2 separate regions of the Homo sapiens genome follow, and region 1 is linked to region 2. The links come from fine-mapping of genetic effects on gene expression. Tissue or cell type: prefrontal cortex. Region 2 holds a variant in brackets; the other region holds the start of a gene. All regions are shown on one strand. Distances are from middle to middle. Region 1 holds the start of CYP26C1 (cytochrome P450 family 26 subfamily C member 1). Region 2 overlaps EXOC6 (exocyst complex component 6).

Evidence for each region. PIP is the estimated chance that this variant, and not a neighbour inherited with it, causes the effect.
Region 1: it holds the start of CYP26C1, and the variant in region 2 is the best candidate, but not a certain one, in a credible set for the expression of CYP26C1 in prefrontal cortex (CommonMind, PIP 0.51).

Annotation. Positions count from the first base shown.
Region 1 is chr10:93,058,099-93,062,458 of GRCh38, forward strand. CYP26C1 (cytochrome P450 family 26 subfamily C member 1) reads left to right here and starts at 2,700. Exons shown (of 6, transcript NM_183374.3): 1 at 2,700-3,369; 2 at 3,912-4,136. The coding sequence starts at 3,166. It overlaps EXOC6 (exocyst complex component 6), which reads left to right. Exons shown (of 22, transcript NM_019053.6): 22 at 125-1,392. The coding sequence ends at 257. RefSeq lists an enhancer at 2,718-3,627.
Region 2 is chr10:93,016,598-93,020,994 of GRCh38, forward strand. All of the region lies in intron 20 of EXOC6 (exocyst complex component 6), which reads left to right. Among named protein-coding and RNA genes, the nearest start is that of CYP26C1, 42 kb to the right of the region's middle. The variant CT/C (reference allele first, on the strand shown) is at 2,016.

The DNA.
Region 1 (4,360 bases), 41 kb after region 2:
GAACTATATTTTTCAAGCATAGGATTAGTGTGGGATAATTCAGAGCATGCCAAGATATTTTACTTGTGACAGCTTAGCTTTTAATTTTCTTTTACCAAGCTTCTTCATTCACATATGTTTCTAGGATGAAGGATACTAGCAAAAAGAACAATATATTTGCTCAGTTCAGGAAGAATGATCGAGACAAACAGAAGTTGATAGAGACAGTCGTGAAACAGCTGAGAAGTTTGGTGAATGGTATGTCCCAGCACATGTAGACCTCACATGGCTTGCACTCAGTGACACCAAATCCATGATTCAATGTTGATCTTGAGCAAGTATTGGTCATGATACAGTAATTTGTTTACAGAATCCAAAAATACAATAGAGAAGATACATGAGGGCTTAAACAAGAAATAGTAATAAATATCATTTGTATGGATTTTTAAATAATCGAATACTATTTTATATATGGAAAAAAATGACCATTTTTTCACTTTTAGGGGAAAATGCAAAAGTGTAATACATAAATTGTCACAAATTATACATGAAATTGATTACAAATACATTTGAAAAACATATGCCTCTACTCATAAGTATTTTTTTCTATTTAGACTTGAATGATAATCTGTTTTTTGATCAGTATATGGCTTTGGAATTCAATCATGTCTGATATGGTAGTATTTCACTACCATTTTCTGACTTTTAGCTTTTATTTTCACCTCAATGTGATTTAAGCAGACCAAAATTTCTAATTCTGCTAATTCTGAAGGGGAAATAGACAAATCTTAAAAGCTGCCTGAAATCAAACTTGATTTAACTCAGTAAGAATGTGAATTATTTGTTCTACTTGGGTGGTTTAATTTAATCGTTCTGAATATGAACAAAAGGTTTTGGATTTTCTAAAGATGCAGTGTTGTTTCTGTTCATCAGGGTTAATATTTCTAACTATATTGCTTGTAGGTGACCCCATTCTGGATTTGTTTGGTTTGGTTTGGTTCCAGTTAAAAGAGAGGACAGGAACTAAATGGGGCTAACCACTTCAGGTGCAGCTTGTGCGAGGGTAGATGGTTCCTGCACACAGAAGTTACCACAGGGGTCAGGTTACTTTCTTCAAATAGCAGATTTCAGTACTTTATCCTCATTGTGGAAACAAGCCAAACCAAATGAACTCTGGAAAACCTAAAACAAATGTACATTTTCCTTTGTGTATGTTTCCGTGGTCCAAATGGCAATATAAATCCAGTCTTTATTCTCCCTTTGTTGTATTTATGCTGAATCTTCCCTTTGCCTTTTCAGGATTTAGGCCTGTAAGAAACTATGCCTGATTCTGTAAAATAAGTGTAAAGAATTATATGTACATCTCTGGATTTTGTGATGAAATATTAAAAATATTGAGCAAGTTGTTGAAAATGCATTACTATTTTGTCTATTCAGAGCTTACTGATTTAAAACAAGTGCTTCCTGGAGAAAAGGCATATTATTTCCTAGTTACTGGAATGGGAGTGGCACCAAAACAGTATATATACATACACACACACACACACACACATATATATACATATGCGCACTTGTTCTCTCGATCATCTCTTAATCCAAAGTATTTAATGTTTTTAAAAATATTACATGAAAAGCATGGTAGTTCTTCAGGCACGGTGAAATCTGGAGGAGAGGAGCGGTGAACAGCTAGCTCTCTTTGAAGACTGGAATGGGGCTGCCCTTCGCGCCTTACCCAGCCTTCCAGCGTACTTGGGGTGTCTTCCCTGCTTTGGCTGAGACGTCCCGGGATTCAGAGAGATACTGCCTTTGCACTGCCTGGAGGAGACCACTGTGGGACCTCTTTACTCTTACCAATAATATAAACACCCTGCACCCCTCCACACACACCCCAGGTTGCACTGTAGGGACAAGAACGAGTGAGTCCTGAGGCATTTGGAACCCTTGAATGGGACGCACAAAGCCCAAAACGCAACAATGTAGATTGACAAGAGTCGTCGGGCAAACTCGGGGGAGGGAGGGAAGGATGTGCAGGGAAGGATGAATTCGGTCCTTGAGACCGGAAAGGTGCTCGTGGGTATCCGCTTCTGGAGGCTTAGGACGTCTTTATGAAGCCTAGGGCAGTAGTGGAACTGCCATCTTTGGAAGGATACCTGACGTGGTAGATCAGAGAGCCGGGAGAGGTGGGGAGCTGTCGGAGAATCTCGGCTGCGCTATCCCTCCTGGGCTTTTGCGATGCCAACGCAGGCGTCGACGACTGCAGTTTCCCTGAAATAGTCGGAGCAAAGGAGAGAAAAGCCCAGTTCTTTCACCTTGGAGTGGCGAGAGAAAGGCACCTAGAAGCTCGAGGGCGGGGACGGCAGAGGGAGCCAGCGGCCGGGGGTGGGCCAGGAGCACTGCGGGGCGCAAGCCCGGGTCAGTTCTGCGCGTTGGGTTCGCCCACTTTCTGAGCGCCTGCGAAGAGCGGGGAAGCTCTGGCGCGAACCCGCAGGCCCCGCCCGAGGACGCTCGCGGGGCGAGCCCCCAGCCCAGCTCGAGCCGCCCCGGCGCCTGCCACTCCCTACTCAGAGCCCCTCCGTGAGCGCGCCGCTGCCCACCGCCTCCAATCACCACTCTGCGTGGAGCGCTTTAAATATGCAAAGACACGTCACGTTGTGTGAACCGGGATCGGTCCGTAGGGGGGGAGCCAATATCTATATAAACGTGTCCAGCGTGGGCCAAGAAGGGTTAAACGACTGGAGGAGGGACAGGTGGGGCGGGGGTCTGCAGACCAGGTTGGCAACACTGGTGAGTTGCTCTTCTTTCGCCCTCCTTCCCTTCTTCTATCCAAAGGGTGCTGAGCCCGGGAGGAGGTGGGAGGTGCCCCGCGGAGCCGGGAGTGAGCGTTCCCGAGGCAGCAGGCACCTTCGAGAGGGACTGGCATTTGGGCCCAGGAGCCAGGAAAAAGTCCTGAGCGTGCCGGCCTCGAGGAAGGCACGTTCCCTAAGGGCGCACGGTCACTGCAGTCTTTCACCGTCCGTCTGTTTTTAGAACAGAGTTCTGGCCTGAGCTTATAAATCTCGGGCTTTGCCCCCAAACCCCAGGCCTTTTGCGGACGGAACAGGTGAGCACTGCGCACTGCTCGCGCCCCGGTTCTTGCGTCCCCTGCTCTCCCTGCGCTCTGAGCGGCCTGGCCCCCGCGGGCTCATCATGTTCCCTTGGGGGCTGAGCTGCCTGTCAGTGCTGGGGGCGGCGGGCACTGCTCTCCTGTGCGCGGGCCTGCTGCTCAGCCTGGCCCAGCACCTCTGGACCCTCCGCTGGATGCTGAGCCGGGACCGGGCCTCCACCCTGCCTCTGCCCAAGGGCTCCATGGGGTGGCCCTTCTTCGGCGAAACGCTGCACTGGTTAGTTCAGGTGAGCAGTCCTTCGACCCCGAGCGCTAATACGGTCCCTTCTTCCCCCGGCTCCCACTGGACCCTCCTCAGTCTCAATGCCCATGGGATTTGTAGCCAGTCCCTGCCCATCGCCCACGACCCCGGGAAGCGCGCACAACTCTCGCCTTTACCTAGATACTCCGTTCCCTCGAAGGGACCTCAAGTCACTGGAATTCCCCCCAGAGCAACTCCCAGACACAACGCAGGGGGTAAACATAAGGGGTTTTAGGAAGGGGTCTGAGGAGCACGTCCTGCAAGGGTAGAAAAGGAGCCTGGAGCTTGGCCCAGCTGTGAGCCCTTGGGCCCTCACTTCTTCACTCTGAGTCTGTTTCCTCATCTCACCAATAGGAACAGGAGCATGTACATTCCCGTAGAGTAGATACCAGGCCCACTGGGGATCTTGTTTTGTAAACGCGCCAGCCAGGGACAGGAAGTTGTGATCAAAAGGCAGCTGGAAGGTCTGGGTCAGATCCCAGCCCAGGCCCAGAAGTTCCAGCTCTCCACCCTCCGCCTCGCCCGCAGGGCTCGCGCTTCCACAGTTCTCGCCGAGAGCGCTATGGGACAGTGTTCAAGACGCACCTGCTGGGCAGGCCAGTGATCCGCGTGAGCGGCGCGGAGAACGTGCGCACCATCCTGCTGGGCGAGCACCGCCTGGTGCGCAGCCAGTGGCCGCAGAGTGCGCACATCCTGCTGGGCTCGCACACACTGCTAGGTGCGGTCGGCGAGCCGCACCGGCGGCGGCGCAAGGTGAGTGGAAACGGGAATGGACCGTAGATACGTCGGATCCGCGGTCCCCGGCATCTGCCATGGGCCAGGCCGGGGCCCCGGTGTTGGATACACTGTGAACCCGACCAAGGTCCCTGGTAACTAGCGGGTGGCCTTGGGCGGGTCCGTTACCTTCAGCTTCGGTTTATAAAGTTAGGACTGCGCTAAAAGATTCTTTCATCTCCCATCTTCCGTGGCTGTGATAG
Region 2 (4,397 bases):
TATAAGAAAATCATGTGAGAAACATTGTCAAATAAGAAATGGTATTTAACTTGCTTTGAATTATATTTATACAAATATTCATGTGTTCCAAAATTATATTGGATTCCTGAAATTCTGATGTCTTGATATATGTTATCAGTCATAATTATTATGTTATTATATGTCACAAAAATAACAAAATTCCCTTGTCAATTGGTGTCTTTTACCATGGCTATTTTCTTTTTTTTTTTTTGAGATGGCGTCTCGCTCTTGTCACCAAAGCTGGAGTGCAGTGGCGCGATCTTGGCTCACTGCAAACTCCGCCTCCTGGGTTCAAGCAATTCTCCTGCCTCAGCCTCCCAAGTAGCTGGGACTACAGGCGTGTGCCACCAAGCCCAGCTAATTTTTTTTGTATTTTTAGTAGAGGTGGGGTTTCGCCGGGTTGGCCAGGCTGGTCTCAAACTCCTGACCTCAGGTGATTCACTTGCCTTGGCCTCCCAAAGTGTTGGGATTACAGGTGTGAGCCACTGCACTCAGCCTAACCATGGCTATTCTAAGTCTTTTGTCATCTACAGAATATTAATTGTTTTTCTTGATTCTCCTCAAAAAGCAGTTTACAATTGGCTACAGTCCAAAATTTGCTTCTTGGCATACAGAGTTATATAATGGACTCCAGAGACTCAAAAGGGGGAGGGTGGGAGAAGGGATGAGAGATAAAAACTACATATTGGGGGCTGGGCACGGTGGCTCACACCTGTAATCCCAGCACTTTGGAAGGCTGAGGCGGGTGGATCATGAGGTCAGGAGATAGAAACCATCCTGGCCAACACGGTGAAACCCTGTCTCTTCTAAAATACAAAAAATTAACCAGGCATGGTGGCAGGTTCCTGTAATCCCAGCTACTTGGGGGGCTGCGGCAGGGGAATCGCTTGAACCTGGGGAGATGGAGGTTGCAGTGAGCCAAGATCATGCCATTGCACCCCAGCCTGGCGACAGAGCAAGACTCTGTCTCAAACAAACAAACACTACATATTGGGTACAATGTATACTACTTGGATGATGAATACACTAAAATCTCAGACTTCACCACTATACGATTCATCCATGTAACCAAAACCACTTATATTTCAAAAGCTATTGAAATAAAATAAAAGGCTGGGCGTGGTGGCTCATGCCTGTAATCCCAGCACTTTGGGAGGCTGAGGTGGGCGGATCATGAGGTCAGAAGGTCGAGACCGTCCTGGCTAACACAGTGAAACCCCGTCTCTACTAAAAATGCAAAAATTAGCTGGGCGTGGTGGTGCACACCTGTAATCCCAGTTACTCAGGAGTCTGAGGCAGGGGAATCACTTGAACTTGGGAGGCAGAGGTTGCAGTGAGCCGAGATTGTGCCATTGCACTCCAGCTTGGGCAACAAGAGTGAAACTCTGTCTCAAAAAAAAAAAAAAAGAAATAAAATAAAAATAAAAATTTTAAAAAAGAAATACATTCTTTATGCAGACCATCACATAACCATCTTTGACATAAATCACACCCCCCTATATGTAAAGATTAAATAAGACCTCATAACCAACAGCAATGTACAGACCATGTTTACATCTTAATTTGAACAAACCAGTTATAAAAAAAAGGGAGGGGGCAGGTTTGAGATAATCAGGGAAATATGGATATTAGATATTTGGTATTAAATTATTTTTAAAAGGTATAATAATGACATGGTGAATATGTTTTTTAAATGCCTTACTAGAGGCATAATAAAATATTATAGGTAAAATGAAAAAGTACACGTACATAAGTTATACATGTTTTCAAAAAAACATTAGAATATACAAAAAAGTAGAAAAATTTACTCATAGTCTTTCTACCCAAACACATCATTATTGGCATTCTGTTTTATTTCCTGCTGGTCTTTTTCCATTAATTTTTTTCCTCATCCATGCTCCTACCCTTACCAAAATATGATTGCTGGCATACTGTCCTCACAATTCCTTCTTTGTATTTCAGATAGTGTTTGCCTCTTAAATCTTAAAAAGGAA[CT/C]TTTTTTTTTTTTACCAGATATTTCAGAGCCATAAAACTCAAATATAATGTGTGTAACTTGTTTTGATCCCAATTCAGACAAATCAGTGGGAGAAAGCAGGGAAATGTATTCTGTGGTTTGTTTTAAAATACTTTAAAAAGAAAAATTATTGATAGTAGCTGAATCTGGGAGGTGAGGATGATGGGTTTATTGTGCTATTTACTTTCATATATGTTTGAAATTTTTCATAATAAAAATAAAAATATTAAATTAAAAAAATAAAAGACCCTGACAAATGCTCTTACATACAGGTGTCTGGTGACTTTGGAAATCATACCACTGGACTAGGTAAAAAAACTTCCAGGACTCTAATTAAAAAGCTGATACATTCATAAAGATTGCTAACCCAACATCAAGCAAAACAAGAATTACATGGAACTGAACTGATGGTGGACTAAAATAATTTATTATTATTTTATTTTTAAATGTTAATCTATGTATTTATTTATTGATTGATTTATTTATTTTGAGACCAGATTATGAGACTGGCTAGTTTTTGTATTTTTGGTAAAGATGGAGTTTCACCATGTTGCCCAGGCTAATCTTGAACTCCAGGGCTCAAGCAATCCACCCGCCTCGGCCTCCCAAAGTGCTGGGATTACAGGCGTGAGCCACCACACTTGGCCCAAAATGATTTTTTGTTGACTTTTTATTTAAAACATTGCTGATTCTTTCTATGTTTTGTTTTCCAGAGCCAAGAAAATTTTTTCTTCTAAGCTATTCATAACTTACAGCAATTAGTTAAAATATACTTATGAACAAAATCAAAACATTTACTTTTCTCTCTAGATGATTTCTCCAGAATTTAGAAACTATCCATAAATATTCTAGTTTTATGACAATCTAATTATTTACATAAGTTCCATAAGAATCTTTTCTTTTGTAACAGGACACATTGAAAACACTGGTTATTTTACCAAGGATTTGACTAAAATGTCATGTTTTCATATATGACCAGACTGCTTTGAGGGATTGAGGTTGACTTTATAAAGCCAATAAAGTTTAAAAACAAAAAAACAAAAAAGAGACTGGCCCTGTACCCTATCCACACAGTTCCCTTATAAGGTTCCTGACCTTGGGATAAGTAAAAAATGTCACTTTCTGGCAGGCCTGAGAACCTCAAGATACTTCAAGGACCTCGAAAAGTGAAAATTTCACCCAGTTCATACCGATATTAGAGGCACAGTCTGATGGCAAATGCTCAGCTTGCTTTCCTACCCTTGAGGCTTTTAAAAGTCTAATCCAAAATTCCTTATTAAAAGTTCCAGTGAAGTCCGTTTTTAAAAAGTCCATATGGTGAATCACTATTCTTGCTGCACTATACAAATAATCAGGCCAAATATGGTAAGACTAAAATTTATTTTACAAATAAATTGGTCCTAGTATAATTTGTATTTGATTTTTTTAAAAGGGGGACTAGAAAAAATACATATTAAAGGAAAAACCATAGTATACATGTATTAGATTCTAGCCTTGTCCATTATTTTTGAGTTTTTATTATTTGCCTGCAATTTAGAACAAATCCTAAATTCTTTTTTAGCTACAAGTCTCCAAACTAATGTTTTCACATTTTTCTCACTTAAAATCACTAAAAATTAAAACTGCTTTTCTTAAAGCCCTAAAGCTAGAACTTAATATAAACTTCAACAAAAATCACCAGAGCAACTTACATATTAACAGCCTTTATGCCTACAGATATATGGACTGTGCAAAAAGTTTGCTTGAATACCTGATTCAAACCATAATAATAATAATAATAATAAATGTGTCAGATTGCCACTGCAACCTGAAGATGCTTCAGAGACTCCAATAATTAGCTTATAGACTACTCCAGACATGGACCATTGTTTTTCTTCTGTTTCTGTAGAGATGCCTCTTATTAAAAATATGTTTGCCTACCTTACATATAGAGGCCTAGCTTCGAGGGCCCATCTGCAATGCTGTCTTCTAAAATAAGACACAGCTGTTTAATTGGACTGGCCTATTCCCCAAAATAAGAGACTGATTTGATGAGATCTTTTGCCATTGAGTTACTAACTTGATTTGTCTTTTCACAGCCACTAACTCAGCTTTTAATATGTGAAACTTCTAGGGAAGTTTTAGACAGGGAAATGTTGGGGCTCAGAAACCAGTACTCTAAAATACAGTGCTTTGACATGCTGAACGGAAGAAGCAGCACTGAGGTCTCTCTGGCCTCTTTCCCACCCCCGCCCACTGCCCCACCATCTCTCAATACTTTGTCTCTCCCAAAGTACAGGATAAAGTTGTTCTCTAAAATTCCCTCATCTGCTTGAAGTTTGGACCTGTCAAGGAAGAAAACGGTTACCTCTGGTTCCTTCCC